Linked DNA regions of Homo sapiens: regions 1, 2, 4 and 5 are each reported to be linked to region 3. The links are microRNA targets in miRTarBase. Many come from high-throughput screens and were not tested one by one. Region 3 holds a microRNA gene; each other region holds the end of a gene's coding sequence.

Evidence for each region. Region 3 holds the annotated microRNA hsa-miR-124-3p (UAAGGCACGCGGUGAAUGCCAA, at 3,083-3,104, shown strand). A microRNA usually pairs through its seed, bases 2 to 8, with sites in the 3' UTR of a target mRNA and lowers its output. Matches are read on the target gene's strand: a 7mer-m8 pairs with bases 2 to 8, a 7mer-A1 pairs with bases 2 to 7 and ends in A, and an 8mer does both.
Region 1: miRTarBase lists PLIN3 as a target of hsa-miR-124-3p. Seed matches in the 3' UTR shown: 7mer-A1 at 1,926-1,932.
Region 2: miRTarBase lists MYCN as a target of hsa-miR-124-3p. The part of its 3' UTR that is shown has no 7-base or 8-base seed match.
Region 4: the mRNA of E2F6 is a reported target of hsa-miR-124-3p. Seed matches in the 3' UTR shown: 7mer-A1 at 4,579-4,585.
Region 5: miRTarBase lists ANAPC5 as a target of hsa-miR-124-3p. The part of its 3' UTR that is shown has no 7-base or 8-base seed match.

Annotation. Positions count from the first base shown.
Region 1 is chr19:4,834,354-4,840,294 of GRCh38, reverse strand. It overlaps PLIN3 (perilipin 3), which reads left to right. Exons shown (of 8, transcript NM_005817.5): 8 at 759-1,954. The coding sequence ends at 1,103. Among named protein-coding and RNA genes, the nearest start is that of TICAM1, 5.6 kb to the right of the region's middle.
Region 2 is chr2:15,945,442-15,951,253 of GRCh38, forward strand. It overlaps MYCN (MYCN proto-oncogene, bHLH transcription factor), which reads left to right. Exons shown (of 3, transcript NM_005378.6): 3 at 52-1,563. The coding sequence ends at 656. It also overlaps the pseudogene RN7SL104P. Among named protein-coding and RNA genes, the nearest start is that of MYCNOS, 6.7 kb to the left of the region's middle.
Region 3 is chr20:63,175,470-63,181,410 of GRCh38, forward strand. MIR124-3 (microRNA 124-3) reads left to right here and starts at 3,031; the gene lies at 3,031-3,117. RefSeq lists an enhancer at 2,278-3,238 and a silencer at 3,526-3,815.
Region 4 is chr2:11,441,526-11,447,466 of GRCh38, forward strand. E2F6 (E2F transcription factor 6) reads right to left here. Exons shown (of 7, transcript NM_198256.4): 7 at 2,850-4,998. The coding sequence ends at 4,952. Among named protein-coding and RNA genes, the nearest start is that of E2F6, 22 kb to the right of the region's middle.
Region 5 is chr12:121,303,165-121,309,001 of GRCh38, forward strand. It overlaps ANAPC5 (anaphase promoting complex subunit 5), which reads right to left. Exons shown (of 17, transcript NM_016237.5): 17 at 5,081-5,527. The coding sequence ends at 5,316. Among named protein-coding and RNA genes, the nearest start is that of CAMKK2, 9.4 kb to the left of the region's middle.

The DNA of each region.
Region 1 (5,941 bases), not on the chromosome of region 3:
GAGATCCTGTTTCTAATTAAAAGAAAAGAGTCTGGGCGCGGTGGTTCATGCCTGTAATCTCAGTACTTTGGGAGGCCAAGGAGGGCCGATCACTTGAGGTAGAGTTCAAGACCAGCCTGGCCAACATGGTGAAACCCCATCTGTACTAAAAATGCAAAAGTTAGACGGGCGTGGTGGCACGCGCCTGTAGTCCTAGCTATTCGGGAGGCTGAGGTAGGAGAATCGCTTGAACCTGGGAGGCGGAGGTTGCAGTGAGCCAAAATCATGCCACTGCACGCCAACCTGGGCAACAGAGCAAGACTCTATCTCAAAAAAAAAAAAAAAAAAAAGGGCCGGGCACGGTGGCTCACGCTTGTAATCCCAGCATTTTGGGAGGCCAAGGCAGGCGGATCACGAGGTCAGGAGATCAAGACCATCCTGGCTAACACGGTGAAACCCCGTCTCTACTAAAAATACAAAAAATTAGCCTGGCGTGGTGGTGGGCGCCTGTAGTCCCAGCTACTCGGGAGGCTGAGGCAGGAGAATGGCGCGAACCTGAGAGGCGGAGCTTGCAGTGAGTTGAGATTGTGCCACTGCACTCCAGCCTGGGCGACAGGGCGAGACTCCGTCTCAAAAAAAAAAAAAAAAGTTTCGCCTATGGAAAGCGTTTGCCCCAAGGTCAGTGGTAGAACCCCTCTTCCCCTCTTTCCCTGGCTTCAGCTCCGATCGCCTTTCCTGAAACAAATGGTCCTGATTGGTGTCCCCATCTCCCTTCTCAGCAGGTCGAGTCCCGGGCGCTCACCATGTTCCGGGACATTGCCCAGCAACTGCAGGCCACCTGTACCTCCCTGGGGTCCAGCATTCAGGGCCTCCCCACCAATGTGAAGGACCAGGTGCAGCAGGCCCGCCGCCAGGTGGAGGACCTCCAGGCCACGTTTTCCAGCATCCACTCCTTCCAGGACCTGTCCAGCAGCATTCTGGCCCAGAGCCGTGAGCGTGTCGCCAGCGCCCGCGAGGCCCTGGACCACATGGTGGAATATGTGGCCCAGAACACACCTGTCACGTGGCTCGTGGGACCCTTTGCCCCTGGAATCACTGAGAAAGCCCCGGAGGAGAAGAAGTAGGGGGAGAGGAGAGGACTCAGCGGGCCCCGTCTCTATAATGCAGCTGTGCTCTGGAGTCCTCAACCCGGGGCTCATTTCAAACTTATTTTCTAGCCACTCCTCCCAGCTCTTCTGTGCTGTCCACTTGGGAAGCTAAGGCTCTCAAAACGGGCATCACCCAGTTGACCCATCTCTCAGCCTCTCTGAGCTTGGAAGAAGCCTGTTCTGAGCCTCACCCTATCAGTCAGTAGAGAGAGATGTCCAGAAAAAATATCTTTCAGGAAAGTTCTCCCCTGCAGAATTTTTTTTCCTTGTTAAATATCAGGAATATAGGCCGGGTGCGGTGGCTCACACCTGTAATCCCAGCACTTTGGGAGGCTGAGGCGGGCGGAACACCTGAGGTCAGGTGTTCGAGACCAGCCAGGCCAACATGGTGAAACCCCGTCTCTACTAAAAATACAAAAAAAAATGAGCCGGGCATGGTAGCAGGTGTCTGTTATCCCAGTTAGGAGGCTGAGGCAAGAGAATCTCTTGAACCTGAGAGGCGGAGGTTGCAGTGAGCCAAGATCGCGCCATTGCACTCCAGCCTGGGGGACAAGAGTGAGACTTAGTCTCAAAAAAAAAAAAAAAGAAAAAAAAATCAGGGATATAGTTCATATCCCACTTCTTTGTTTACACCGATGTCCCTGAATATCAGCCTGTAGCTAATGGACTTGGGATTTCTGGTCTAAGTGGGCCTCCTGGGGATGGGGTGGTACACTGAGCTTCTGAGCCTCATTGTAGAGTAGAAAGGTACTGGGGCCTGTGTGGTAAGCCTTGTTGAAATGCTCTGGTATTCAGTATTGCCTTAATAAACTTCACCCACAACTGCATACAGGCCATGTGTGTACGTGTGTGTGTCTTCATCTGTCCCTGCTGCTAGAACAGAAATATCTTAGGCAGGGTAATTTATTTATTCATTTATTTATTTTGTAGAGACGGGGTCTTGCTATGTTGCCCAGGCTGATCTTGAACTCCTGAGCTCAAGCGTTCCTCTCACCACGTCCTCCCAAAGTGCCTGGCCAGGCTGGGTAATTTATGAGCAACAGAAATTGATTTCTCACAGTTCCGGAGGCGGGGAAGTCCAAGATCAAGACACTGGCAGGCCTGGCACAGTGGCTCACGCCTGTAATCCCAGCACTTTGGGAGGCCGAGGTGGGAGGATCACTTGAGGCCAGGAGTTTGAGACTGGCCTGGGCAACATAGCAAGACCCCATCTCTACACAAATTTTTTTTTTTTAAGTTAGCCAGGCATGGTAAGGTGGGAGGGTCACTTGAGCCCAGGAGTTTGAGACTGCAGTGAGCCAAGATCGCACTACTGCACTCCAGCCTGGGCAACAGAGCAAGATACCATCTCGGAAAAAAATCCAAGTGACAATCTACAGTGTTTCTCTACGGTAGCTACAGAGAAGGGGAACTTCAGGGACTTCTCCCAGGGACATGGAGAAGATACATTCTCAGTCTTACTAAATACTGCTGGACTGTTGCCCAAATCATTGTCAGTCTTTTCACTCCCACCCTAAGTCCTGAGAGGGTTCATTTCCCCCATCACCAACCACATGTTACTTTCTCTTTGTTAATCCATATTCAAGTTGAATTCATATGCACCCAAGTATATGAATCTTAAAGGGACAGTTCAATGAATGTTACATAGGAATCCACTCCCTATAACCAACAGCCACAGGGATTACTGGTGCGTGCCCCACCATGCCCGGCTAATTTTTGAATTTTACTAGAGACGGGGTTTTGCCATATTGGCCAGGCTGGCTTTGAACTCCTGACCTCAAGTGATCTGCCCGCCTCGGCCTCCCAAAGTGCTGGATTACAGGCGTGAGCCACTATGCCAGCCTTTTTTTTTTTTTTTTTCGCTCTTTTTTGAGACAGAGTTGTACTCTGTTGCCCAGGCTGGGGTGCAGTGGTACTATCTCAGCTCACCGCAACCTCCACCTCCCAGGTTCGAGTGGTTTTCCCGCCTCAGCCTCCCGAGTAGCTGGGATTACAGGCGTGCACCACCACGCCCGGCTAAGGCTGGAGTACAGTGGCACGATCTCGGCTCACCGCAAGCTCCACCTCCTGGGTTCACGCCATTCTCCTGCCTCAGCCTCCCGAGTAGCCGGGACTACAGGTGCCTGCCACTACAACCGGCTAATTTTTTGTATTTTTAGTAGAGACAGGGTTTCACCGTGTTAGCCAGGATGTAATTTTGTATTTTTAGTAGAGATGGGGTTTCACCATGTTAGCCAGGCTGGTCTCAAACTCCTGACCTCAAGTGATCTGCCCACCTCGGCCTCCCAAAGTACTGAGGTTACAGGTGTGAGCCACCACATCTGGCCCCACCTCATCCTCTTGAGTATCTGGGAACTACAGGCGTGCACCACCACACTCAGCTAAATTATACACACACACACACACACACACACACACACACACAGATGTGGGTCTTGCTATGTTGCCTAGGCTGGTCTCAAACTCCTGGGCTCAAGCGACCTCCCACTCAACCTCCCAAAGCACTGGGATTACAGGTGAGAGTCACTGCACCTGGCTCTCACCCGATCTTTTTCCCAATCCCATCAGATAGATGCTATTATCTCCAGGGAAAATGAGGTGTAATCCAGAGAGCCCACCCTCAGCCCCACCTCAGCTACTAATAGCTGAGTAGTAATTTGAACTCAGGCCAGGCATGGTGCCTCACGCCTGTAATCTCAGCACTTTGGGAGGCCAAGGTGGGCAGGTCACTTGAGGTCAGGAGTTCGAGACCAGGCTGGCCAACATGGTGAAATCCCCCTCTCTATTAAAAATACAAAAATTAGCTGGGTGTGGTGGCACACACCTGTAATCCCAGCTACTGGGGAGTCTGAGGCACAAGAATCACTTAGCCCAGGATGCAAAGGTTGCAGTGAACCAAGATCACGCCACTGCACTCCAGCCTGGGCAACAGAGCGAGACTCTGTCTCAAAAAAAAAAAAAAAATTGGACTCAAAGAGTCAAGTTCTCTCCACGGTGCTTATAACCACCACATTTTAAGGTAGCAATGCCTGTTTTGGAATATCATACATGACACATATGTTGACTTGTGAAAGTGTCAAAGATATATTGACAATGGAATACAGTAAATTTTTTTTTTTTTGAGACGGAGTCTCGCTCTGTAGCCCAGGCTGGAGTGCAGTGGCGCGATCTCAGCTCACTGCAAGCCGCACCACCTCACAGGTTCACACCATTCTCCTGCCTCAGCCTCCTGAGTAACTGGGACTTCAGGCACCTGCCACCATGCCCGGCTAATTTTTTGTACTTTTAGTAGAGACGGGGTTTCACCGCTTTAGCCAGGATGGTTTCGATCTCCTGACACTGTGATCCGCCCGCCTCGGCCTCCCAAAGTGCTGGGATTATAGGCGTGAACCACCACGCCCAGCCGAAAGTATTTATTGTCTGGTCCTTTACAACAAACAGTTTGCTGAACTCTGGCCTATGCGAATTAAAAAGGAAAATCAGATCGAAGAATATTCAGTATCATGATCACGGATCTGTGGATATGTGTGCAAAAGTGGAAAACAGAGGCCGGGCATGGTGGCTCATGCCTGTAATCCCAGCACTTTGGGAGGCTGAGGCAGGCAGATCACTTGAGGCCAGGAGTTCGAGACCAGCCTGGCCAACATGGTGAAACCCCATCTCTACTAAAAATACAAAAATTAGCTGGGCGTGGTGGCGCACAGCTGTAATCCCAGCTATTCAGGAGGCTGAAGTAGGAGAATCGCTTGAACCCAGGAGGAGGAGGTTGCAGTGAGCCAAGATCGTGCCACTGCACTCCAGCCTGGGCGACAGAGCGAGACTCTGACTCCAAAAAGAAAAAAAAAAAAGTGGAAAACAGAATGGATGGGCTTGTGGGTGGAGGCTTCTAGGGGAGGTGGTGGAGAGGGAAAGTAAAAAAAAAACTTGGACTTTTACTGGAATATTATCTTTCTTTCTTTTTTTTTTTTATATTTTTTCTTTGAGATAGGGTTTCTCTCTGTTGCCCAGGCTGGAGTGCAGTGGTGCGATCATAGCTCACTACAGTCTCAACCTCTTGGGCTCTGGTGGTCCTCCCATCTCAGCCTCCCAGGTAGCTGGGACTACAGGCACGTGCTGCCATGCCTCATTTTTTCTTTCTTTCTTTTTTTTTTTTTTTTTGAGATGGAGTCTCGCTGTGTCGCCCAGGCTGGAGTTCAGTGGCGTGATCTCGGCTCTCTGCAAGCTCCACCTCCCGGGTTCATACCATTCTCCTGCCTCAGCCTCCTGAGTAGCTGGGACTACAGGTGCCCGCCACCACGCCCGGCTAATTTTTTTGTATTTTTAGTAGAGACAGGGGTTTCACCGTGTTAGCCAGGATGGTCTTGATCTCCTGACCTCATGATCCACCTGCCTCGGCCTCCCAAAGTGCTGGGATTGCAGGCGTGAGCCACTGCACCCGGCCCTCATTTTTTCTTTATTTTTAATTTTTGTAGAGATGGGATCTCACTGTGTTGCCAGGGCTAGTCTTGAACGCCTGGGCTCAAGCAATCCTCCCGCCTCAGCCTCCCAAAGTGCTAGGATTACAGGCATGAGCCACCGCACCCGGCCTGTTTCTTTCACTGAAGAAGAGAGGGGGCAACTGCACCTCTCTGCAAGTGGCCAAATTCACCCATCTGCAGCCCTGGAATTCTGAATTCTTCAGCCATTACCTTCTCTGAGCCTGTTCTCTCATCTGTAAAATGGGAACCATCAAACCCATTTTGATGGAGAAACGGTTGTTTTAAGACATTGATCAAGCCAGGCATGGTGGCTCACGCCTGTAATTCCAACACCTT
Region 2 (5,812 bases), not on the chromosome of region 3:
AATTTCATTCAAATGGTTCTCACATGAGAGTAACTAGCATCTTTCTCTCAGATGATGAAGATGATGAAGAGGAAGATGAAGAGGAAGAAATCGACGTGGTCACTGTGGAGAAGCGGCGTTCCTCCTCCAACACCAAGGCTGTCACCACATTCACCATCACTGTGCGTCCCAAGAACGCAGCCCTGGGTCCCGGGAGGGCTCAGTCCAGCGAGCTGATCCTCAAACGATGCCTTCCCATCCACCAGCAGCACAACTATGCCGCCCCCTCTCCCTACGTGGAGAGTGAGGATGCACCCCCACAGAAGAAGATAAAGAGCGAGGCGTCCCCACGTCCGCTCAAGAGTGTCATCCCCCCAAAGGCTAAGAGCTTGAGCCCCCGAAACTCTGACTCGGAGGACAGTGAGCGTCGCAGAAACCACAACATCCTGGAGCGCCAGCGCCGCAACGACCTTCGGTCCAGCTTTCTCACGCTCAGGGACCACGTGCCGGAGTTGGTAAAGAATGAGAAGGCCGCCAAGGTGGTCATTTTGAAAAAGGCCACTGAGTATGTCCACTCCCTCCAGGCCGAGGAGCACCAGCTTTTGCTGGAAAAGGAAAAATTGCAGGCAAGACAGCAGCAGTTGCTAAAGAAAATTGAACACGCTCGGACTTGCTAGACGCTTCTCAAAACTGGACAGTCACTGCCACTTTGCACATTTTGATTTTTTTTTTAAACAAACATTGTGTTGACATTAAGAATGTTGGTTTACTTTCAAATCGGTCCCCTGTCGAGTTCGGCTCTGGGTGGGCAGTAGGACCACCAGTGTGGGGTTCTGCTGGGACCTTGGAGAGCCTGCATCCCAGGATGCTGGGTGGCCCTGCAGCCTCCTCCACCTCACCTCCATGACAGCGCTAAACGTTGGTGACGGTTGGGAGCCTCTGGGGCTGTTGAAGTCACCTTGTGTGTTCCAAGTTTCCAAACAACAGAAAGTCATTCCTTCTTTTTAAAATGGTGCTTAAGTTCCAGCAGATGCCACATAAGGGGTTTGCCATTTGATACCCCTGGGGAACATTTCTGTAAATACCATTGACACATCCGCCTTTTGTATACATCCTGGGTAATGAGAGGTGGCTTTTGCGGCCAGTATTAGACTGGAAGTTCATACCTAAGTACTGTAATAATACCTCAATGTTTGAGGAGCATGTTTTGTATACAAATATATTGTTAATCTCTGTTATGTACTGTACTAATTCTTACACTGCCTGTATACTTTAGTATGACGCTGATACATAACTAAATTTGATACTTATATTTTCGTATGAAAATGAGTTGTGAAAGTTTTGAGTAGATATTACTTTATCACTTTTTGAACTAAGAAACTTTTGTAAAGAAATTTACTATATATATATGCCTTTTTCCTAGCCTGTTTCTTCCTGTTAATGTATTTGTTCATGTTTGGTGCATAGAACTGGGTAAATGCAAAGTTCTGTGTTTAATTTCTTCAAAATGTATATATTTAGTGCTGCATCTTATAGCACTTTGAAATACCTCATGTTTATGAAAATAAATAGCTTAAAATTAAATGATGCAACTCAACCTTTTCCTTAATGGCATTACACTCTGTCCCTTAAGGAGCAACCATAAATAATCCATAACCTATAGAGGGAATTTGGTTTCCGTAAATAGCCCTTTTTGCACCTGTACAATCCTGGTTGGGGGGCATGAGTCATTGTCCCCACTTAAGGTGGAGGGAACTGAGTTTGGGGAAATTAAGGCAGTTCTCCAAGATTATGCAGAATAGAGATGTTATTAGCGACTATTGTGTGCATTGTAGCAATGGCATTTGATAATTTACAGAGCACTTCTGTATACTGTGGCTCCTTAGTGGAATTAAGCTGAGACCTCAGATCAGTCCCTTTAAAAGAAAAGTAAAAATAGCCACAGGGTTGTTTAACTCGCTTGTATTGGGCTTTGGTAGTATTCGTCCCATTGGCAGACAGTCTTCTATTTTAAGGTAGAGCATAGTTTGTCTCCAAGAATTCATTGTTAAAAACATTCACTAGGATCTGTGGAGGTTCTAGGCTAAGCAGAGTAAGCAGAATAAACAGATGGAAATGGGTTCCTCCCTTCAATGAACTCAACCTGATTCACCAAAGTGTAATTCACGAGTGACAGTTACGTAGTCCAGAGCAAGTACCAGGTGCAGGAGAGACCCTGGGGTCACAATGGAGACCCCATATGGGTGGCATGGCTCTCTACTTGCCATTCCTATTACACAGCAGTGTCTTGGCTACTTGGGCTGCCCTTTGGAAATGGGATCAATCTTGCAGGCTCCAGAAGACAGAGCCAAGACTTGTGTGTTAAGGAGATAGTTTACCTGTTGGGACATAAGAGCCTTGCTTGTAAGCAGCTTCTCAGAACTAAAAGTGTACAAATAACCTATTTCTCTTTTGAGTGTCAGGTTGTACTCGGTTATTTCTCTAGGGTTTTGTTCATCTCAGATTTTTAACTGTGAGCCGAAAAAAAAGAAAAAGGCCTTTTGCTTCACTGAGAAGAAAGCAGGTCCAGAGATGAGACAGCTTTGCTTGCCTGGACACACAGTTTGTCAGGGGCAGAGATGGGAGACACCAAGCCATGTGTCCTTGTCTGCTTTGGTCATTTTTATTTGTTTCTTTTGAGATGGAGTCTCACTCTGGTGCCCAGGCTAGAGTGCAGTGGTGCAATCTCGGCTCACTGCAACTTCCGCCTCCCGGGTTCAAGCGATTCTCCTGCCTCAGCCTCCTGAGTAGCTGGGACTACAGGTGTGTGCCACCATGCCCGGCTAATTTTTTGCAGTTTTAGTAGAGACCAAGTTTCACCATGTTAGCCAGGATGGTCTCGATCTCCTGACCTTGTGATCCACCTACCTCGACCTCCCAAAGTTCTGGAATTGCAGGCGTGAACCACCATGCCCAGCCGCTTTGGTCATTTTATAAAGGCAAGTAGGAGTTTAGAACTCAGTCCTCCTTATCCTGCTTATCGCACACCCTTGAGATACGAGGTTGGTGATACTACCATGGACATCTTTCTGATGGTCTCGCCATGTAGAAAATAAGATAAAATGCCCTTTAATTCTCCTAGTCCCCATCCCCAGACTAAAAAATAATGCACCCTTTCTTTTTGAATTGTCATTCAAAAAACTTCCGTTCGTTTGCATTTTACAGGCCCCAAATCACTCACGGCCTCTGCCCCTGTGTGTGTGCAAGAGCCAAAAGAAAGTTAAGCAACCTCACATTAATTGTGTACCTAAGATTCTTGAAGCCCAGCTCAGTCATCCCAGTTTCTCTATTTGTGATTACCATAAGGAACCTACCTGAGTGTGTCCAATGAAATGGAATGCTTAACCGTGAAGAAAGAAAACTGTTCATATGAATGAGGCCACTAAACTACAATTCCTACTATGCTCTCTTTTTGCTCGGGCTGCTGGGAAGCTCAGAGCCAAATTCCACCCCCTCTAACATCTCCAGTGGTCATTCTCTTCTAAATGTTTACGGTTTCTTGTTTTCCATTGTTAGGTTAGTCATCTTTTTAATGTATATAATGTAGTATATAACATGAAACGTTTTTGCATTAGGTGGACCACAAATATGCACCTAAAGGATTAAAACTAAAGTGAAAAAATCCCATATTTGCCTTTTCTGACCTAGCTGAGGGAATGTCACCAAATTTAGCTCTGCAATTATCTATAAAGTAATTGCTGTAGTCACAGAAGAATTGAACTAGTTGTTTCAATAACATGAGAAACCATCTCTGCATTCCAAGAGCAGTTTTGAGACTGGGAAAGAGCTCTACATCATTTAGTTCAATAAACGATAGAGCTGAGACGAAGCACAGAGATCATCTCATTGAAATTCATTTCTCAGAATGAGGGTGCGGGATCCCACCTGGAATTAATGGCTTAACCCAGGGAGACTAGAGCCGGTGTCTCCTATGACCCGCCCAGTGCCCTTCCCCATAACATTCACTTTCTCATTGCCCACACTGTAGCCTCCCCACCTCCTGGCCTGCCCGTCCACCTACATCATGCTTCCATATTAACCCTTCTAAACCACCTACTCTTTATGCAAACTTCCAACAGTTCCCTACTATTTACAGAATCGAGTCCCGACTCTCCAGCCCAGCACAGAGGCACTTCTACCCAGTCCCACCAGCTCCATTGCCCATGGCCCTCCATGTGCTGGACTCTGGCTGTTTCTCATCCGTGACTTGTTTCACCACATCCCTCCTTCTAGGTTACCCAGATTCCATTAATTGAAATCCTTCTCAATCTTGCACCCCCAGGTAGGCCTTTCCCAGCCCTTGGCCTCTGTGCACTTATCTTCTAGCTGCCTTATGCACCTCCTGGACCCCCTAAACTGTGGGCTCCCTTAAGGCAGATAGGGCTCTCATTTGCCTCTGATTCTGAGCATCTGCCCTGTGACTGACAGGTGACAGAGCCTTAGCAGATGCCAGCAGTATAGACGGTAACAGAGGAAGGAGCGAGGAGAGGATTTCCATTATGGGTGGGTCTCCCACCAACTCCAGTTCACAAGCTCTCAGGCTAATTCAGATGGGAAAAGACATCCCTTAGACATCAATGAGTGTCTGGTACTGACTATGCTGGCAGTTCTGAAGAAGTGAAGATAAAATGCTCATAGAGGACTGTCTACAAGGAGCCCACAGTCTGCAAGAGAGTTAAAGCCCTGGGGGTTGTATAGAAGGCAAGAAGAGAAACCAAGAGGCACTGGGTTGAGGGGCTGATGAATGAAAGCATATGAGGGGCCTAGTGGCTGAGTTTGGGGCTATCTGAAGGAGGAAGCTGGTCCTCTGCCTGGGTTCACTGAGTCTACGCCTGGCCTGGCTTGTGGCAGCTCAGACACTTGCCTCAGGCCACAGATGGTCTACACTCGTAGTGAAAAAGGTTGCAATGCCTCCCACCCCTGTGTAGCACTGCAGAGCTTCCCAAGTTTTTGTATGCATGAGTCTCAAAAATCCTTGAGGATTTTTGACCAGTTTATCACATTCCCACATTATAAGTGAGGGAATCTGGTCTTCTGAGTTTTAGTTTCATTAATCCCTATGGTGGCTATGTTTTGAAATTCTGATGTGAGTTGTTTTCGAAATCAGAGGTTGTTTGATTTGGAAGAGGCATAGAAGCCAACTAGTTTACTCTCCCATTTCAGGGGAGGCACCTACAGTCTGCTTGTGAGAATTTTATTTTTCCTTTATTTTATTTTTCTTTTTTTTGCAACAGGGTCTTGCCGTGTTGCCTAGCCTGGCGTGGAGTGGCTAATCTCAGGCACAGTGCCACTGCTGATCAGCACAGGAGTTTTGACCTGCTCCATTTCTGACCTGGGCCAGCCAGTTCATACTTCCTTAGGAAACCTGGTGGTCCCCTACTCCCAGGAGTTGCCATATTGATGCTAAACTTAGTGTGGACATCCAGTAGGCATAGGGTGCTACAGCTCAGAACTTCTGGACTCAAGTGATCCTCCTGCATCAGCTTCCTGAGTAACTCGGACAACAGGTGCACACACACTGCCGTGCCTGGAAGCGTTCTTTTTTCTTTTTTTCTTTCCCTCTTTCCCATTCTTTCTCTCAACAAATATTTATTTAACAGTTACCATGTATCAAGCACTGTTCTAAGTGCTTGGGAGACATCAATGAACAAAAAAGACAAAACTCTCCCAAATCTTCTCTGCTTTCTTGAAGTTTATAGTGTAACAGAGAGTGACAGCTGTACAAATAAACATAATAAGCAAATAAATTAAACAGCATCTAATATGGTGGCAAATGCCGTAAAAAATAAGTAGA
Region 3 (5,941 bases):
GGCGGGGCAGAGGCTGCAGGCGGGCTCCCCTTCCCGCGCGGCTCCTACCGGCCGGCTCCGCCCCCAAGCCCTGGACGGCCCTTCCCCCAGCCCGCCTGGCTGGGGGCCGCTGCACACCGGGGGTGGAAGTGGGGAGCCGGGGACCCCGATCGCTACTCAGGACTCCAAGAGGGGCCGGGTTCTTCTAGGGATGTACAAAAATCTAGGGTGACCCAAGGGAAGGGGGCGACCCCCAGCCTTCCACCTTACCCACCCCGGCCTGCCAGAGAGCCCTCCGCCAAAGGTAAAGTGGGAAGGACGAAGGTGCTCCGCCAGGTGAGGGAACAGGTCTGCCAGGGGCGGCGATCCACCCTGCCCCAGGTGGAGCCGGTCCTGTACGGAAAAGAGACCCAAAGAAAGATTTGGGGTCCCCGAAGCCAAGGTACCGATGGGGGGTGCTAAGGAGTCTTTCCCCTTAGAATGGGAACAAGCTCCAAGGAGCTGGAATCCCGAGGCGTCCTGGACCCGTCCAGGAAGCTAAGGGTGGGGGACGGGAGGGGAGGGGGCCGGGAGCCGGCCTCCCTGGCCCCAACCCTTGGTGAGAAGAGGGCTGGGGGTATAAAGTCCGAAAGTGAGGCGGAGGTTTCAGGGTTCCGTTTCAACACCATGGACAGCGGATGCCTCAGACTGGGAGCCTAGGACCGCCCTGGGGACTGCCCCCGTTTCATTAGGGTGAGGGTCCGATTCCGACCACTGGAGGCCAAGGGCAACTGTCTCCAATGAAGCGGGGCTGCTGCAGCCTGGCCTCCCCAGCCCTCCAGCCCCTCCAGCGTCCGGCTTGCACCTGCTGAGGCTGCCGGCACCCGCAGGCTTGGGGCAGCTTCCAGAGCTTTGCGCTTGGAACAGAAGGTTCCCCTTGGGCTGTGGAGGAGTAGAGGGCTTGTGCGTGACCTGTGAGAAAGAAAGATTGTCCCTGACACTTGCGAAGGGCGAGGAATTGCGGCTGGGAAGGGTCAGGTTGAAGCCGCACCAAAGGGGGAGGGGCGTCCTGATGGTTGAGGACCGGCGGAGTCGGTGCGGGCAGAACCAACCCGAGTTCCTGCCGCCCTTCCTAACCGGCTGTCCATGGGCTGGGCAGTGCTGGAGAGGGTGGAAAAGGAAGGAAGCAGGACCTGCTCCCAGGGAGGCCCAGGCTCTGCTCCGAGGGCAGATGGCGCAGGGGCTGGGTTGGCCCTAGGAGGAAGGAGATGGGGACAGAGGCCTGCCGGCCGCGCCGGCCTGCGCTCCTTGCAGTCTAAACAAAGGCCAGCGGGGGAGGCTCCGGACGGTGAGGCTTGGGGAAGCCACTGATCCCTGGCCCTAGAGGGCCAGATCGGGGGCGCCCCAAGGACCCTATCGAGCTGGCAGTGACTGCAGTCGGGCCGTGGAGTGTCGCCTGTGATTCCGTGGTCCCTACGGGCAAGAGCTCCCATCCCGGTCTGAAACTGTGAGAACCGCAAGCTCCGATGGGGGCGGGGAAGGACGACCTTTAATTCCCACCCCACTGTACGGAGCCCAGCAGGGCCATCCGCAGGAGGCCGGCGGGACCCTTGCCTTTCTCAGGACTGAGAGGCTTGGAGGACCGCGGTGTGAGCTGCGCGGCAGAGTGCGTTCTGCAGGCGCCAGACAGGAGACGCGAACCCGCGGTCAGGGCCCGAGTGCGGGTGCGTGTCTGCGGGTGCCGCTGGGCTGCGTGCCGGCGAGGCGTGCGCGTGGCGAGGCGTGCGCGTGGCGGGGTGTGGCTAGAGGTGTCAATGTGCAGCTGGAGGGGCTGCGCGCGTGGGTGCAGGAGGGCCATGTGAGGGGCTGGAGTGTGTGGGAGACAGGCGTTTCCTTGGGTCTCCGTGTGGCCGCCGGGCGCAGGGCACGGTCGAGGGCGCTCGATGGCTGAGTCCGCGTGAGCCGAGGAGCGCGCGGGGCGGGACGCGGTGCGAATGCGCGGGAGGCACGAGGCGCGCAGTGCGTGTGTGCGCGTGTGCGCGGCGCGCGTGCCCCGCAGTTCTCAAGGACACCTCGGGGAGGCAGCGGCGGGGCCGGTGTCCGGGTGACGTCACCGCGCGCCCCAGTGATAATCGGCCGGTGCCGGAGCGGAGCGCGGATACGCGCGGAGGCAACGGCGACGGCGGCGGCGGCGGCGGGCGCGGGGACAGTTGCATCGGGGCCGGGCCGGGCTAGCAGGAGCTGGGCGCCTGCAGCGTGGACCCCGTGGACACTCGGCTCGCAGCCGGCCTGCGGCGCTCGGGGACTTGCCTGGCTCCCTTCTCGGGGTTCCCGCGCCCTTCTCCGCCCAGGGCAGCAGCGCGCGGGGCCCCCGGGAGCCGAAGAGCAGGCGGGAACTGGCGGCGGCGCGGGAGGCGCAGGGAGCGGAGGCGGCAGCAGCGGCTCCCGCCGGGACTGGTAATTACGCTCGGGGCCGGGCCGGGGCGAGCCGGGCAAGCGGCCTCTCTGGGTCTCCCCGTCTTTCTCTCCACGAACAGCTCGAGCGCCTTCTCGCGGGCCCGCTGCGCGCGGAGAGGACGAGCTCGCTGGGTTGTAAAAAGAGACGAGTTTTCATCTTTGAGCATCGAGATTCGTTCTTTTAACCGCATTCGGTGCGCGCTCCTGGGTCGGCACGGGCAGGGCGACGGCAGGGGAAGGCAGCTGCGGAGGAGCTCGCGCCGCCCAGTCGGAGCGGTTCTGCGCCCCTCGGAGCCCCGCGGGAGGCGGCCGGGTGCGCACGCGCTCACCACCCCCACCCCCGGAATCCGTCTTCGCGATTCCCGGGCGCCCCAGCTCCAGGAACGCCCGGAGGGACGCACTTGGGGGCCCACTCTCTGCCGCGGAAAGGGGAGAAGTGTGGGCTCCTCCGAGTCGGGGGCGGACTGGGACAGCACAGTCGGCTGAGCGCAGCGCCCCCGCCCTGCCCGCCACGCGGCGAAGACGCCTGAGCGTTCGCGCCCCTCGGGCGAGGACCCCACGCAAGCCCGAGCCGGTCCCGACCCTGGCCCCGACGCTCGCCGCCCGCCCCAGCCCTGAGGGCCCCTCTGCGTGTTCACAGCGGACCTTGATTTAATGTCTATACAATTAAGGCACGCGGTGAATGCCAAGAGAGGCGCCTCCGCCGCTCCTTTCTCATGGAAATGGCCCGCGAGCCCGTCCGGCCCAGCGCCCCTCCCGCGGGAGGAAGGCGAGCCCGGCCCCCGGCGGCCATTCGCGCCGCGGACAAATCCGGCGAACAATGCGCCCGCCCAGAGTGCGGCCCAGCTGCCGGGCCGGGGATCTGGCCGCGGGACACAAAGGGGCCCGCACGCCTCTGGCGTCGCGGGGCGGGTGGGGGCGGCCGAGGGCGGCCGAGGGGGGAGCCTGCGGCCGGGGCCAGGCTGCGGCCAGCCGGCCCCCGGCCACGTGTGTCCGCAGCGCGGAGCGCCCAGGCGCCCGCAGAGGGCGGCGGGGCCCGGGAGACAAAGGGAGGGTCCACGGGGAGCGGCGGGCGGGTGCGTGGGGCGGCGGGCTAGGGTGCGGCGCTGTCCGCGGTGCTGGCGGCGGGGCGGCCCCCGCGGGACGGGAGGGCGGCCAAGTGCGGCCCTCGCCCCCACAGCGGGCGCCCTGGACAGTTGCCACGGCAACGTGGGAGGAGGTGGGGCAGGGTCTGAGGTCACCGCTAAGTCTGCCCTTCCTCGGGCCGCTGCGCCGCGGGGCGGGGCGGAGGCGGCGCTCGCTGTGGCCCCAGAGCAGCCCCCGCAGCCCAGGACCAGGCTTGCATGGGGACGGGGGTCTGCGTCCGCGTCCAGGGTCCAAACGAGGGCGGTGGACACGCCGGACCGCATCCCGCCCCCAAAGCCGGCTCTGGGCTGTGCAGGACCAGGCACGTGAGACTCCGCAGCCCAGGGAGAAAATGACAAATCCCTCCCCCGCCGCCATCTGCAGCCGCAGTGACACCCACTCGGGTTTGCTGCAGGGGTTTTTTTTCTGTCCCCGGAAGCCAGCGCCACCTGCTGACGCCCGGCACCGCCTCTGCGCCGCCTCCCCCGCGCCCATCCCAGGCCCCGGCTGGGCTGTGATGCCCCGGTAACAGTCAGAGGACGACCCCCTCCCCAAAAGCCCCCTTCCCCTGGGGCGAGTGCCAGACCTGGCTTTGCAGCTTTGCCTCTTTCCTCTTAACCAGGTAGAGGCTGAGCCTCTCCTCCCCGGCTTCAATCCGAGGCAGGAGTCTGAGTCACCTGAAGTTCTCCCAGCTCCAGGCCCAAGGCAGGGAGCAGAAGATCAGGATAAAAGGAACCATTTGAGTTTCAGGCAGTGGCATCTCCACCCCCACCACCGCCGCTGCAGGGCCACAAAGGGAACCTGCCTCTGCGGCTGTCCTCAGCACAGACCTCCAGCCCCTCCACCCAAGTCGCCTGCTGCAGACACAAGCAGGAGCCACTGGTGCCTCCATCTTCCCACCCCCACCCCAGTCAGCCAGGCAGAGTCAGAACACGGTCCACCAGTCTCCTCAGGGGCAGGTTCCCCCTGGAGGGCACAGAAGTGGCATAGGCAGCCCCAGCAAGCCCCGGCCTGACCACAACACTGACCCCGGGGCTTGGCGTCCCCTTCTTCCTTCCTCCCGCTGTGAGGGGACAGGCAGCATCCCCCAGGGGCACTTCTGGTCCTAGAGAAGGGGAAGGGGCCCCAGGATCGTTCCAGGACAACACCAAAGGGACTGGTGGGAGTGGGGTGTTCCTTCGGGGTACAAGATGTGGCCCTAGCCTAGCTGGAGCTTCCTCTTGGAGCTCTGACCTCCAGCCTGGCCCTTCCCTCGGAGGGAAGGTGGCCCCTGGCTGCTCCCTCCTCTGGGGCCAGAGATGGGGGCTGGGGCTTTGTTCTTGTACCACTTTCCTTCCTGGGGAGGGGACTTGGCTCCTAGCCAGAATGGACCTTCCATGTCAGTAGCCTGGGGAGGGGGACACTTGAGAGCTGGTGGGAGCGCATGGGCAAACTGCCCTTGGCACTGTCCCTAGACAGTCAGTCTCTGTGGGGTCTCCTAGGAAGAGCTTCCTGGACTCTGTCACGGTCAGGGAGCTACCTCTCCTGATGCCTGCCCCCAGTGGTGCACCTGGGCCCCAGCCCCCAGGGCAGACTTGTGGCTTCTGGGCTGGAGCTCAGGGGGTCACAGGAAGGTGGGCAGCCCAGTAGGTATGGGGCACACGGGGGGAAGCTCACTGCGAAGGAGCTGCAGAGCTGAGTGCGCACCTTCTTGGGCCAGGCCTTACCATAGCTGTAGCACCGTCTGCCGCAGTGCGGGGAGGGCCCCATGTGCCACAGGGTCCACTCGGACCTGCAGCAGCTGAGCTGCTGGCCTCAGTGAGAGGCCCTTGGGGCAGGGGCCACCATCACCATGCTTTGCAGCCAACATGGACTGCCCTGCATGTCCAGCTCAGCCTCTCCTCCTCCTGCTCACACCCGCAGCCACAGTCACAGACATGCTCACACAGTCTCACCTCCCACGCACACACAGACACTGCCCGCCTCCACTCAGGAAGAGCTGGGCACATACCCCCAACTGAATCCTCAGCACCCAGCCTGCATTGGGTCGGCTGCCAGGCAGTGGTCCTGGTGGACAGCAAACTTGAGCCAAGGGCTTGGGACACCCTCTGACCAGACCATGACACCCAGCAAGGCCAGCTCAGGGCTATCCAGCAGGGCCCTCCCCAGTGTGGGACCAGAGGAAGACATCCCTTCCCTGACCCAAAGATTTTTATTCTGAATAAAACCTAATAAAGCTGCTGAGGCTGAAGCCACAGGCCCCACAGTCCCCTCTGAAATTCCTCCAAATCCCCCGGTCCACGAGCAGCAGAGGTGGGAGGAGCTGCAGGGGCCAGGCCACAATCAGCAGGGGCCAGGGCAGCCAGTCCCTCTATTCTGCAGCCCCTGGTCTCCACCTTGATCTCACCTCCAGGTAGGGCTC
Region 4 (5,941 bases), not on the chromosome of region 3:
AAAAAAAATTTCTTGGGAGTTGGGTCGAATGATGTAGTCAGGTCAGGTCACTTACCAACCAGCAACAACTTACTGAACATTGTATTAGTCCATTCTCATGCTGCTAATAAAGACATACCCAAGACTGGGTAATTTATAAAGGAAAGAGGTTTAATTGACTCACAGTTCAGCATGGCTGAGGCCTCAGGAAACTTACAATCATGGTGGAAGGGGAAGCAAACATGTCCTTCTTCACATAGTGGCAGGAGAGAGAAGAATGAGAGCCGATCCAAGGGGGAAGCCCCTTACAAAAGCATCGGATCTTGTGAGAACTTACTATCACGAGAACAGGATGGAGGAAACAGCCCCCATGATTCAATTTTCTCCATCTGGTCCCTCCCACAACATGTGGGGATTATGGGAACTATAATTCAAGATGAGATTGGGGTGAGAACACAGCCAAACCATATCATTCTGTCCCTGGCCCCTCCCAAATCTCATGTCCTCATAATTCCAAACATAACCCTGCCCTTCCAACAGTCACCCAAAGTCTTAGCTCATTCCAGCATTAACTCAAAACTCCAAGTCCAAAGTCTCATCTCAGACAAGGCAAGTCCCTTCCACCTATGGGCCTGTAAAACCAAAAGCAAGTTAGTTACTTCCTAGATACAATGGGGGTACAGGGATTGGGTAAATACACCCATTCCAAATGGGAGAAATTGGCCAAAACAAAGAGGCTACGGGTGCCATGCAAGTCCGAAATCCAATACGGCAGTCATTAAACCTTAAAGTTCCAAAATGATCTCCTTTGACTCCGTGTCTCCCATCCAGGTGATGTTGATGCAAGAGGTGGGCTCCCATGGCCTTGGGCAGCCCCACTCCTGTGGCTTTGCAGGGTATACCCCCACCCCCACCTTGGTTACTTTCACAGGCTGGTGTTGAGTGTCTGGGACTCTTCCGGGTGCACAGTGCAAGCTACCATTCTGGGGTCTGGAGGACGGTGGCCCTGTTCTCACAGCTCCACCAGGCAGTGCACCAATCGGGACTCTGTGTGGGGGATCCAACCCCGTATTTCCCTTCCACACTGCCCTAGCAGAGGTTCTCCAGAGAGCGAACTTCTGCCTGGACATCCAGGTGTTTCCATACATCCTCTGAAATCTAGGCAGAGGTTCCCAGACCTTAATTCTTGACTTCTGTGCACCCATAGGCCCAACACCATGTGTAAGCCAAGGCTTGGGGCTTGCACCCTCTGAAGCAACAGCCTGAGCTTTATGTTGGTCCCTTTTAGCCAAGGCTGGAGCTGAAGAAGCTAGGATGCAGGGCACCATGTCCCAATGCAGCATAGAGCGGGGGGTGGGGGGGGGGCCCTTATAGGCCCCCAGGCTTGTGATAGGAGGGGCTGCTGGAAGGTCTCTGACATGCCCTGGAGACATCTTCCCCATTCTCTTGGTGATTAACATTTGACGTTACTTATGCAAATTTCTGCAGCCAGCTTAAATTTCTCCCCAGAAAATGGAGTTTTCTTTTCTATCCCATCATCAGGCTGCAAAATTTTCCAAACTTTTATGCTCTGCTTCCTCTCGAACACTTTGCTGCTTAGAAATTTCTTCTGCCAGATACCCTAACTCATCTCTCTCAAAGTTCCATGCATCTCTACGGCAGAGGCAAAATGCTACCAGTCTCTTTCCATAGCAAGAGTGACCTTTACTCCCGCTTCCAATAGGTTCTTCATCTCCATCTTGACCACTTCAGCCTGGACTTCACTGTCCATATCACTATCAGCAATTTGTCAAAGCTATTCAACAAGTCTCTAGGAAGTTCTAAATGTTTCCCACATTTTCCTGTCTTCTTCTGAACCCTCCAAACTGTTCCAACCTCTGCCTGTTACTCAGTTCCAAAGTTGCTTCCACATTTTTGGGTATCTTTACAGCAGCACCCCACTCTCTGTGGTACCAATTTACTGTATTAGTCCATTCTCAAACTGCTAACAAAGACATACCCAAGGCTGGGTAATTTATAATGGAAACAGATTTAATTGACTCATAGTTCAGCATGGCTGGCTCAGGAAACTTACAATCATGGTGGAAGAGGAAGCAAATACGTCTTTCTTCATATGGTGGCAGGAGGGAGAATGAGAGCCGAGCGAAGGGAAAAGCCCTCTATTAAACCATTAGATCTCGTGAGAACTTACTATCACGAGAACAGGATGTAGGGAAACAGCTCCCATGATTCAGTTATCTCCACCTGGTCCCTCCCACGACACATGGGGATTATGGGAACTGCAATTCAAAATGAGATTTGGGTGGGGACACAGCCAAACCCTATCATACACTACATTAATATGAGAAATACCTATTAAGACATGAGCTTACACTCTGACAACATGGAATGGCAGCTGGGAACGTAGCCGCAGCAACTTATGAGGAAGGAAGATGGCCACCTGCGTGCTGTGTATAAACTGCATGCAGGGTAGGAGTAAAGGGGAGGCATGGGTGAAGCCAGGTCCAGAATAGGGATGCGATTTTGAAACACAGAGAACAGGAAGAGGATAGGATAAGAGCAAAGGCAGGGAGATGGGAAAGTTCACTGTGTGCTTCAGGTAGCGATGAGACCAATTTACTGGGGTGAAGGTCTGCAAGGCAGGTACCAAGGCAGGATTGGTAAGCAAGCCTTGGGCCCTTCTATATCCAGAGTCTGCACTTCGGCCTGAAGGAAACACGGATCGCTCAAGGTTTCTGAAGGAAGAAGCGGTGCGCACAGAGATGGGACAGTGAGGTTGGAAAGGTTAGGGTTAGTGAGGAGGAGGGGCCCAGAAACGAGTTCATGCTTATTTTATCCGTTTTAAGAATCAGAGACCCAACGCCAGAAGATGGAGTGACTCGAGAGATACTTCATTTATAACACACATCTGTAATTTACAAAGGATTTTCGTTTACATGATCTCATTTTACCTTCAGAACAATTTGTAAAGGAGAACATTTGCCACATTCACAAGTTAAGGAACTGCTGCTCAGAAATGATGGTATTACCTTTGGTAAAACCTTTGTTGGTTTTTGGGACACTGCCTTCTCCCTCCCCACCCGCCCCATTATTCCTTCTCAGGAGACTTCTTCTGTATTTCTCCTTAAATATAGATGCCCTTAGGCCTGCTGTACTCTTTAGATGACCTCTCCTACTCTTGTGGCTTAAACTATCGCATCTAAACTGACATCTGCCTGACGTACTACACAGCTCAGACTTTTCCGCTGAGCACCTGACCTACATACACACAACAACCTGCTCAACTCTTGCTTTCATCAAGCATGTCCCAAACCTAAGTTTTACCCTAGGCTTGCTCCTCCTCCTGTATTCCCTATTCTGTCAAACAGTACGACCCACCAGTCCAGTGATGATCAGCAGTGCCCCCTGCAGCTTTTCTTTGGCTAATTTCAAATAATAAAACAGAGGGAGGAAAAGCATTGAGGCTAACCGCTGGGGGAGGAGCACACTTCATCCCCAGGTGCACAGAAACACACCGGCAGGACTGCTGCAGGAAGGGCTGGTGCTCAGCAGAGGGACAGGACTGGCAAAAGCCACCAGAGCTCAGAGGTATGTGAATCCTAAACACTCAGCATTATTTTTTAATACTTTGATTTTGGATTCCGATTTTAAATCTTTTTAAACACAGTCTGAATTTGAAGTCGCTTCAAATATTTCTTTAAAAGCAATATTCAAACGATACAGGAATCTTGTACGATAGACAAACCAAATATTATTATTCTGATCTTACAATTCACTCACTCCACTCACTTATTTGTTCAGACATTTATTGAGCACTTCTTAAGGGCCAGGCATGGTGTGAGGCACTGGGATGTAACAGTGATTATGACAAAGTCCCTCAAGGAGCTCACAGTCTAATGGTAAACTACAGAGTAAACTGAGGCACAGAGTGGTAAATGACTTACCCAATGAGGTAGAAACAGCTAGGTATGTGAAAATGTGGGAGCAGAGCTGGAGAGAGGGCAAGGTACAACTTGTCCTAAGTAAAACCCCTTGGACTGACTCAACAGCAAGGCTGCATACACAAACATTACAAAATCTACTTGCAAAAACCTGAAAGGAGTTTCCAATTATCACCATGACTGAATTCATGTTTCACAATGAATTCAGCTATTTCCTGATGGCATTTCTATCCTTGCCCCCAAAGCCACTGGGCATGCCACCAGTCTGCTGGGAGACAGCAATTAGGTAGACAGCTTAAAACCAAGAAGTATCTGACTCCAATTTTAGCACTGAAAACCATATTAAAATACTTTAATTAAATCCACAAACATAAATGTGTAGCACATTTATGATACTTCTACATGTAGAAGTTTGGAAAAAGTCTCTTCTAACCCTCATCCAGAGGATTCTAATAAGTTATAGGTACCAAAGAGATTAGAGAATTTGTCTGTCACTTTCCATATATACATTATTTTGGCTGTACAAGGGTGAAAAGTGTCACTCAGACATATTTCGTAAGTAATCTCAACATTATACAGATATATACAAAGACATCACATTTAAATTCGTGTGTACATCTATGCAATGTACAACAGTAACTGCAAACATGAACCAGTGTAAGGCAATTTCTTTTGTGATATATGACATACTCCTTGAAGGGAAGGGTAGAGTCCACAAAGAACTGTCCATTTCAGCCTGACTGTCTGTCTTCATGACACTCTGTGATGAAGCTACTTCAGGAGGCAAGATGTCTATTTCACTGACAAAAAGCAGTGAATAATTATAAAAGGAGTTGTTTTCAAATGTGGAAACCACAATTACTCAGTAATCTAAGTGGTGAACTCCTCAAAGACACTACTGGCCATGATGCCGCTACTGAGAACGAGAGCACTTCATGGATAATTTATTGCTCTGAGAATCAAATTTGATGCGTAATTCTCCACGAAGATATTCCCAAAAAACTCAGTGATACATAAATTCTCAAATGCCATCAGTTGCTTACTTCAAGCAATTCTTCACTTTGCTGAGGATTTTCTTCTGGAAAAGAACACGAGAGAGAAATACACCTAAGTGAATACACCTAAGTGAAGGTCTGATAGGCAAATACGTAAAAGAATACACAATCTGACTACTTCAGAAAACCCTGAAGATGCCTGGTCAAGAACACGTATTCTCAGGTTAATGGCATAAGGCTAATTTTTTCAGCCTCTCAAGAATAAACTGGAACTCTAACTTGTACCTGAAAGCACCCGTCCGAGAATGGAGGAAACCTTCCCTTATTAGGGCTTTATTAGTTTCTTTTGGAGCCGTCACGACTCCCCCAGTCTTCGTAATCCTTGTGTCTTTGTGCTGTTGTCTGCATGTGGGCAACAGCCCCCTCTTCTGGTCATTACAGGTATTCTTCGTCAGTGAAAGCTTCCTATCGGTCCAGCCTGTGGCTCTGCAAGGGCCACCTGAAGACCACCCTGGCCCGCAGTGCTTGTCAAGTTCTCCAGTTGGCTGGGTCTTTGTTCGGATGTCGGTGGAGCTGTTGGCTGGGTACTGTGATGGCTTCTGCCCAGGCCGGTCACAGGATGCTGGTCCCCTGCTCAGGCAATTCCACTATTTGGGATCTGCTGTTGGACAGCACTGCAAGCTGGGTTCCGAGGTTAGATGGAGTCACTGCTCTGGCCAGATGGGTCCAGAGGCGACGTCCTTAGAAATGTGCAACTGAGGACTGACTCTTGTGGAGTGGGCTGTTGGCTGAGTTGAGTGGGTATTTGACTGCCTGGGTCAAGCAGGTCTAGCCCCTTCCCTTCTCCAAGATGTGCAGAAGGGGAAGTCTCCCGGCCAGGTCATGGGCAGGCTCTTTGGCCGAGTGGAGCTGCTGTTTGACTGAAAGCCTGCCCTATTCAGAGACCATCGCAAGTTGGTATCACCATGGGACCAAACAGAATTCTAAGTTTTCACTGCTACCAAAACTACAGAAATTTAACTATAA
Region 5 (5,837 bases), not on the chromosome of region 3:
TTTTTTCCCATTCACCAGGACAGTAGAAAAACGCTGTCGCTAGCTAGGCGTGGTGGCAGGCACCTGTAATCCCAGCTACTTAGGAGGCTGAGTCAGGAGAATCACTTGAACCCAGGAGGCATAGGTTGCAATGAGCCGAGATCGGGCCGCTGCACTCTAGCCTGAGGGACAGAGCCAGACTCTGTCTCAAAAAAAGGAAAGAAAAATGCTGTGGGGCTGGGCACGGTGGCTCATGCCTGTAATCCCAGCACTTTGGGAGGCCAAGGCAGGGGATCACTTGAGGTCAGGAGTCCGAGACCAGCCTGGCCAACATGGTGAAACCCTGTCTCTGCTAAAAAATTCAAAAATTAGCCAGGTATGTTAGCACGTGCCTGTTATCCCAGCTACTCAGGAAGCTGAGGCACGAGAATCGCTTGGACCTGGGAGGAGGAGGTTGCAGTGAGCTGAGATCGTGTCACTGCACTCCAGCCTGGGCAACAGAGCGAGACTCCGTCTCAGAAAAAAAAAAAAAGAAAGAAAGAAAAGGAAAAAAATGCTGTCAAGTCAGGCTCAGAGGCACGCGCATGCAGTCCCAGCTACTTGGGAGGCTGAGGCAAGAGGATCACTTGAGCCTCAGATTTCAAGGCCAGCCTGGGCAACATAGTGAAACTATCTCTAAAAAAGAAAAGAAAAATGCTGTCAGAAAGAAGATCTTGAGAAGTTTCACTTCAACAGGCAGTGAGATTACTAGTCCCAAACATAAACAACATCATAGAAGAAGTGATGGGGGCACAGATGAGGAGGCTTTTCATTTGTCTCAGCATACATCTTCGAGGAAAAAAACTGGCCGGGCGCGGTGGCTCACACCTGTAATCCCAGCACTTTGGGAGGCCAAGGCGGGCAGATCACCTGAGGTCAGGAGTTCTAGACCAGCCTGACCAACATGGAAAAACCCCGTCTCTACTAAAACTACAAAATTAGCCAGGCATGGTGGTGCATGCCTGTAATCCTAGGCTGAGGCAGGGAGACTGAGGCAGGAGAATCGCTTGAACCCGGGAGGCAGAGGTTGCAGTGAACCAAGATCACGCCACTGCACTCCAGCCTGGCCAACAAGAGCAAAACTCGGTCTCAAAAAAAAAAAAAAGAAAGAAAGAAAAAGAAACAGGAAAAAAAAAAGCCAGTGTAACCACCCAAAAATATTAGGACCAAATTTAAAACACTTTGAACAAGTAGAAATATTCAGAGTATGGAGGTGAATACAAAGGCAGCCTGGTGATGTGAGAAAGAGCCTAGGCTGTGGAGCCCATCACTTCTGGGGCTGAATCCTGATTCTGGTCCTCACCAAGGTCGGGGCTGGGTCAGGCCCAACCTCCAGGGCCCGCTTTCCTGCCTGTAAAACAGGGATGATGTTTAGCTCACAAGCATTAGAGATGGTATGTGTGGAAGTACATAGCAGTGTCTGGCCCACATTGGGCACTACGTAAATAACAACTAATATTATCGTTTATGTGTTCAACAAACTGAAAAACAATGTTCACAAAAACAGGACAGTACTTTTGAAAATTCTAAGGGTAGGCCCAGCCCTGGAACCTATCAGCAGCGTGGCCTTGAGCAAGTAACTTAACCCCCTTATGCCTCCATCCTATCCTGTTCAATGGAATTCATGCTATTGCTAACTCTTGGAATTACTGTGAAGATTAAACGTGTTAATATAGCTAAGAACTTAAAACAGGGCACACGGCTGCTGGGTAGAGTTCCCACTGTGCCACCAGGTCAGAACACCTTTTTCCTTCTCTCCCTTAGAGGATACATCCTGAAGATCTCGGGTATAGACCCGAATGCCTGCTGCTTAAAAAGCTTCAATTCCGGCCAGGTGCGGTGGGTCATGCCTGTAATCCCAGCACTTTGGGAGGCCGAGGCGGGTGGATCATGAGGTCAGGAGTTCGAGACCAGCCTGGCCAATATGGTGAACCCCTATCTCTACTAAAAATACAAAAATTAGCTGGGCATGGTGGCGGGTTCCTGTAATCCCAGCTACTTGGGAGGCTGAGGCAGGAGAATCGCTTGAACCTGGGAGGCAGAGGTTGCGGTGAGCCGAGATTGCGCCATTGCACTCCAGCCTGGGCAATAGAGCGAGACTCCATCTCAAGAAAAAAAAAAAAAAAGAAAAAGTTTCAATTCCCTCCTCATTTAACCTTTTCCCCATTTAACCAGACGATCAATTCTTATACCCTTAAACCACTCATCATCACATCATTATGAAATTATTGACTCCTTTTTTTCCCCCCACCAAATGCTCTATCAGGAGAAAAGCCAGTTAGCTGTCACCCCGACAGTTCTGAGTTTTGGGGTCACAAATGTCTCTACTTTTCATTCAACCCACTCTGCTATCAGGGAGGAGACAAGCCCCTCAATCAACAAATCTAAGTCACAGATAGCAGGAGACCCCAGACCCCTTCTATTAGCTTTGGATTTAGGCCCTGTCTCCCTGCTAGGGTGAAGCTGCCATCAGCTGAGAGGCGCTTTGGGCAGGCTGGCTTTTCAGGTGTGCAAACTGTGCAGGGCTGTGGGCTCAGAAGGGCCCTATATTGGTTTAAGGCTCTGCCGTTGCTGTTTGAAATTATTTTATGTTTTTTTTTTTTGAGACAGGGTCTCACTGTGTCGCCCCAGGCTGGAGTGCAGTGGTGCGATCTCAGCTTACTGCAACCTCCGCCTCCTGGGTTCAAGCGGTTCTCCTGCCTCAGCCTCCCACGTAGCTGGGATTACAGGCGCCCACCACCATGCCTGGCTAATATTTGTATTTTTAGTAGAGATGGGGTTTTACCATGTTGCAAAGGCTGGTCTTGAACCCCTGACCTCAGGAGATCTGCCCACCTCAGCCTCCCAAAGTGCTGGGATTACAGGTGTGAGCCACCACACCCAGCCTTTTAAATTTTTACTTTTTAATAGAGGCCTCACATTTTTAGTTTGCACTGGATTCCATGAGTTGCATAGCTGGTCCTGGTCAGGCGTGATGACATCAAGCTTTTATGTTGGTATCTGTGGGGTCACCTGAACAACCTGACCCCATTTATTCAACCTTCTGCTGAGGCAGAGTAGCTAAGGCCACTTCTTAAATTGAAAGGCTCTTACTTTAAATACATTAATCAAAAATGACATCAGATGAAAAAATATACTTGAAAGAATAAAAAGGAACTGATAAGTTACCTCCTAAGAGGAAGTAGTACTTTTTTTTTTTTCTTGAGATAGAGTTTAGCTCTTGTCACCCAGGCTGCAGTGCAATGGCGTGATCTCGGCTCACTGCAAACTCTGCCTCCTAGGTTCAAGCGATTCTCCTGCCTCAGCCTCCCGAGTAGTTGGGACTACAGGCGCCCGCCACCACGCCCAGCTAATTTTTTTATTTTTAGTAGCGACGGGGTTTCACCATGTTAGACAGGCTGGTCTCAAGCTCCTAATCTCAGGTGATCCACTCATCTCAGCCTCCCAAAGTGCTGGGATTACAGGCTGAAGAATTACTTTTTACTACATAGCCTTTAATATTATTCAATGTTTACCATCTCTATATATAACCTTTCAAATGAATTTAAGATTTTCAGTCAACATACCAATTAGTCTCTATCTCTCCACCAAGTCTCTTGTTTCCAGAGCAGCTGTCTTTGGCCAGCAAATGTACCGTAATGGATACAACTGTTTTACACTGCTTCAAAGAGCCCTGAAGAGAAATTACTCCCCATCAGAAAAACTTTCTGATGGGAAATTTAACAGAGAAAGAACCAATAATAGGAGCTGCACAATTTAGTTGGTTCCCTGTTGCTTTATAAAGACTATTTGGGGCAGGCACGGTGGCTCACGCCTGTGATTCCAGCACTTTGGGAGGCTGAGGCAGGTGAATCACCTGAGGTCAGGAGTTTGAGACCAACCTGGTCAACATGGTGAAACCCCATCTCTACTAAAAATCCAAAAATTAGCCAGGCGTGGTGGTGCATGCCTGTAGTCCCAGCTACTTGGGAGGCTGAGACAGGAGACTCCCTTGAACCCAGGTGGATGTTGCAGTGAGCGAAGATCACGCCACTGCACTCCAGCCTGGGCAACAGAGCAAGGCTCCATCTAAAAAAACAAAAACAAAAAAACACAACTATTTGGATATAGCTGCTGCTTTGGACTTGAAACAATGGCATTTTTCTGTGAACACTCAAGGATAAGAAATTCATGAACAGAAAAAGCAATAACTGGCTCCTGCTTACTTGCAGGGTTAAGAAATGTAAACTATAATACACTATATATTTGGTGATAGCATCTCACACCTCTGAGCTTTGGACCCTTTCTTATTTATTTTTATTATTATGTTTCTGAGACAGAGTCTTGCTCTGTCGCCAGGCTGGAGTGCAGTAGTGCGATCTTGGCTCACTGCAACCTCCACCTCCCGGGTTCAAGTGATTCTCCTGCCCCAGCCTCCCGAGTAGCTGGGATTACAGGCATGCACCACTATGCCCAGCTAATTTTTGTATTTTTTTTTTTAGTAGAGATGGGGTTTCACCATGTTGGCCAGGCTGGTCTCCATCTCCTGACCTCATGATCCACCCGCCTCAGCCTCCCAAACTGCTGGGATTACAGGCGTGAGCCACCGCAGCCGGCCCCCTTAATTTATAATCACCTTACTCATGATGAATTCCTGGACGTAATTTATCATCATCCCTCATTTATAGAGTTAAATATAGAAAAAAAAAGTGCCCATGCAGAATATATAAGAAAGCCAACATCTAGAAAGGGACTGAAAAATGCTCCTGGTCATTGGTCCAAAAATTATGAAAAAATCTTTTCCTTCTTAATCTCCAGTCAGGGACCAACAAGTCCTCGTGAGCAGCCACAGGAACCACAAGCGCTGGTTCAGTCCAACAAGGCAGGGAGGCCTCAGAAGAAAGTCCAAGCCTCATACAGACCTGCACTGACCACCCTGGAGAGATCTACCAATTCCAGGAAGAGCTCTTGTCTGAGAATAGGTGCTAAATGAATTTACATAATGATGGAGTGTGTACAATTTCTAATCAAGATATTGGCAATTTTGCCCAGAGAGAACATAATCTGAGATGCTTGCACTAACTTGTTAGCAAAATACCCATTTATTAAGAAAAAGTTGGTGTCCTTTGCTACCAAAAGGGAAGAAAAGGGGAATAAAACAAATACGTAGTTACTAGCAACAAAATAAGACAAACTAATCAGAATGCTGTTTATTGACAAGATAGGGTGTCACAAATACATCATTTATAGGGAGAGAGGGGACATGAACAAGTCCAAAATCTTATACTCTGCACAGCAGCCCAGCAGGGATGTCCTCTCTAGAGATGGTTTATCAAGGGTACCCCATGAGAGGGCAGCTCCTGATGCAGCTGCCGGAAGAGCATCGCACACCGGTTCCTCTCCTGGGTCTTCCCCAGGGTATGGTAGAGTCTGGCCTGGAAGTAAACGACGTCCCTGATGCGCTCTTTGCAGTCAACCTTTGCAAAATAGTTCTTGGCTTCATTGAGGTTCTCGATGGCAGCCTCCAGAGCTGACGGAAAGGGGAAAATAACACACACATTTAACTCAACCCTTCACGTATAGTTTTCAAAACGTGGTATTTAGTTTTATTTGTTCAACAACTACCAGAAGATTCTTTTATATTCTCCATTCTTTGAGAGAGAAAAAACAAACCACTAGGGTGAGGTTTTCAAAAAGGTCTTTAAGACTGGGCGAAGTGGCTCATGCCTGTAATCCTAGCACTTTGGGAGGCCGAGGCGGGTGGATCACCTGAGGTCAGGAGTTCGACGCCAGCCTGGCCAACATGGTGAAACCTTGTCTCTACTAAAAATACAAAAATT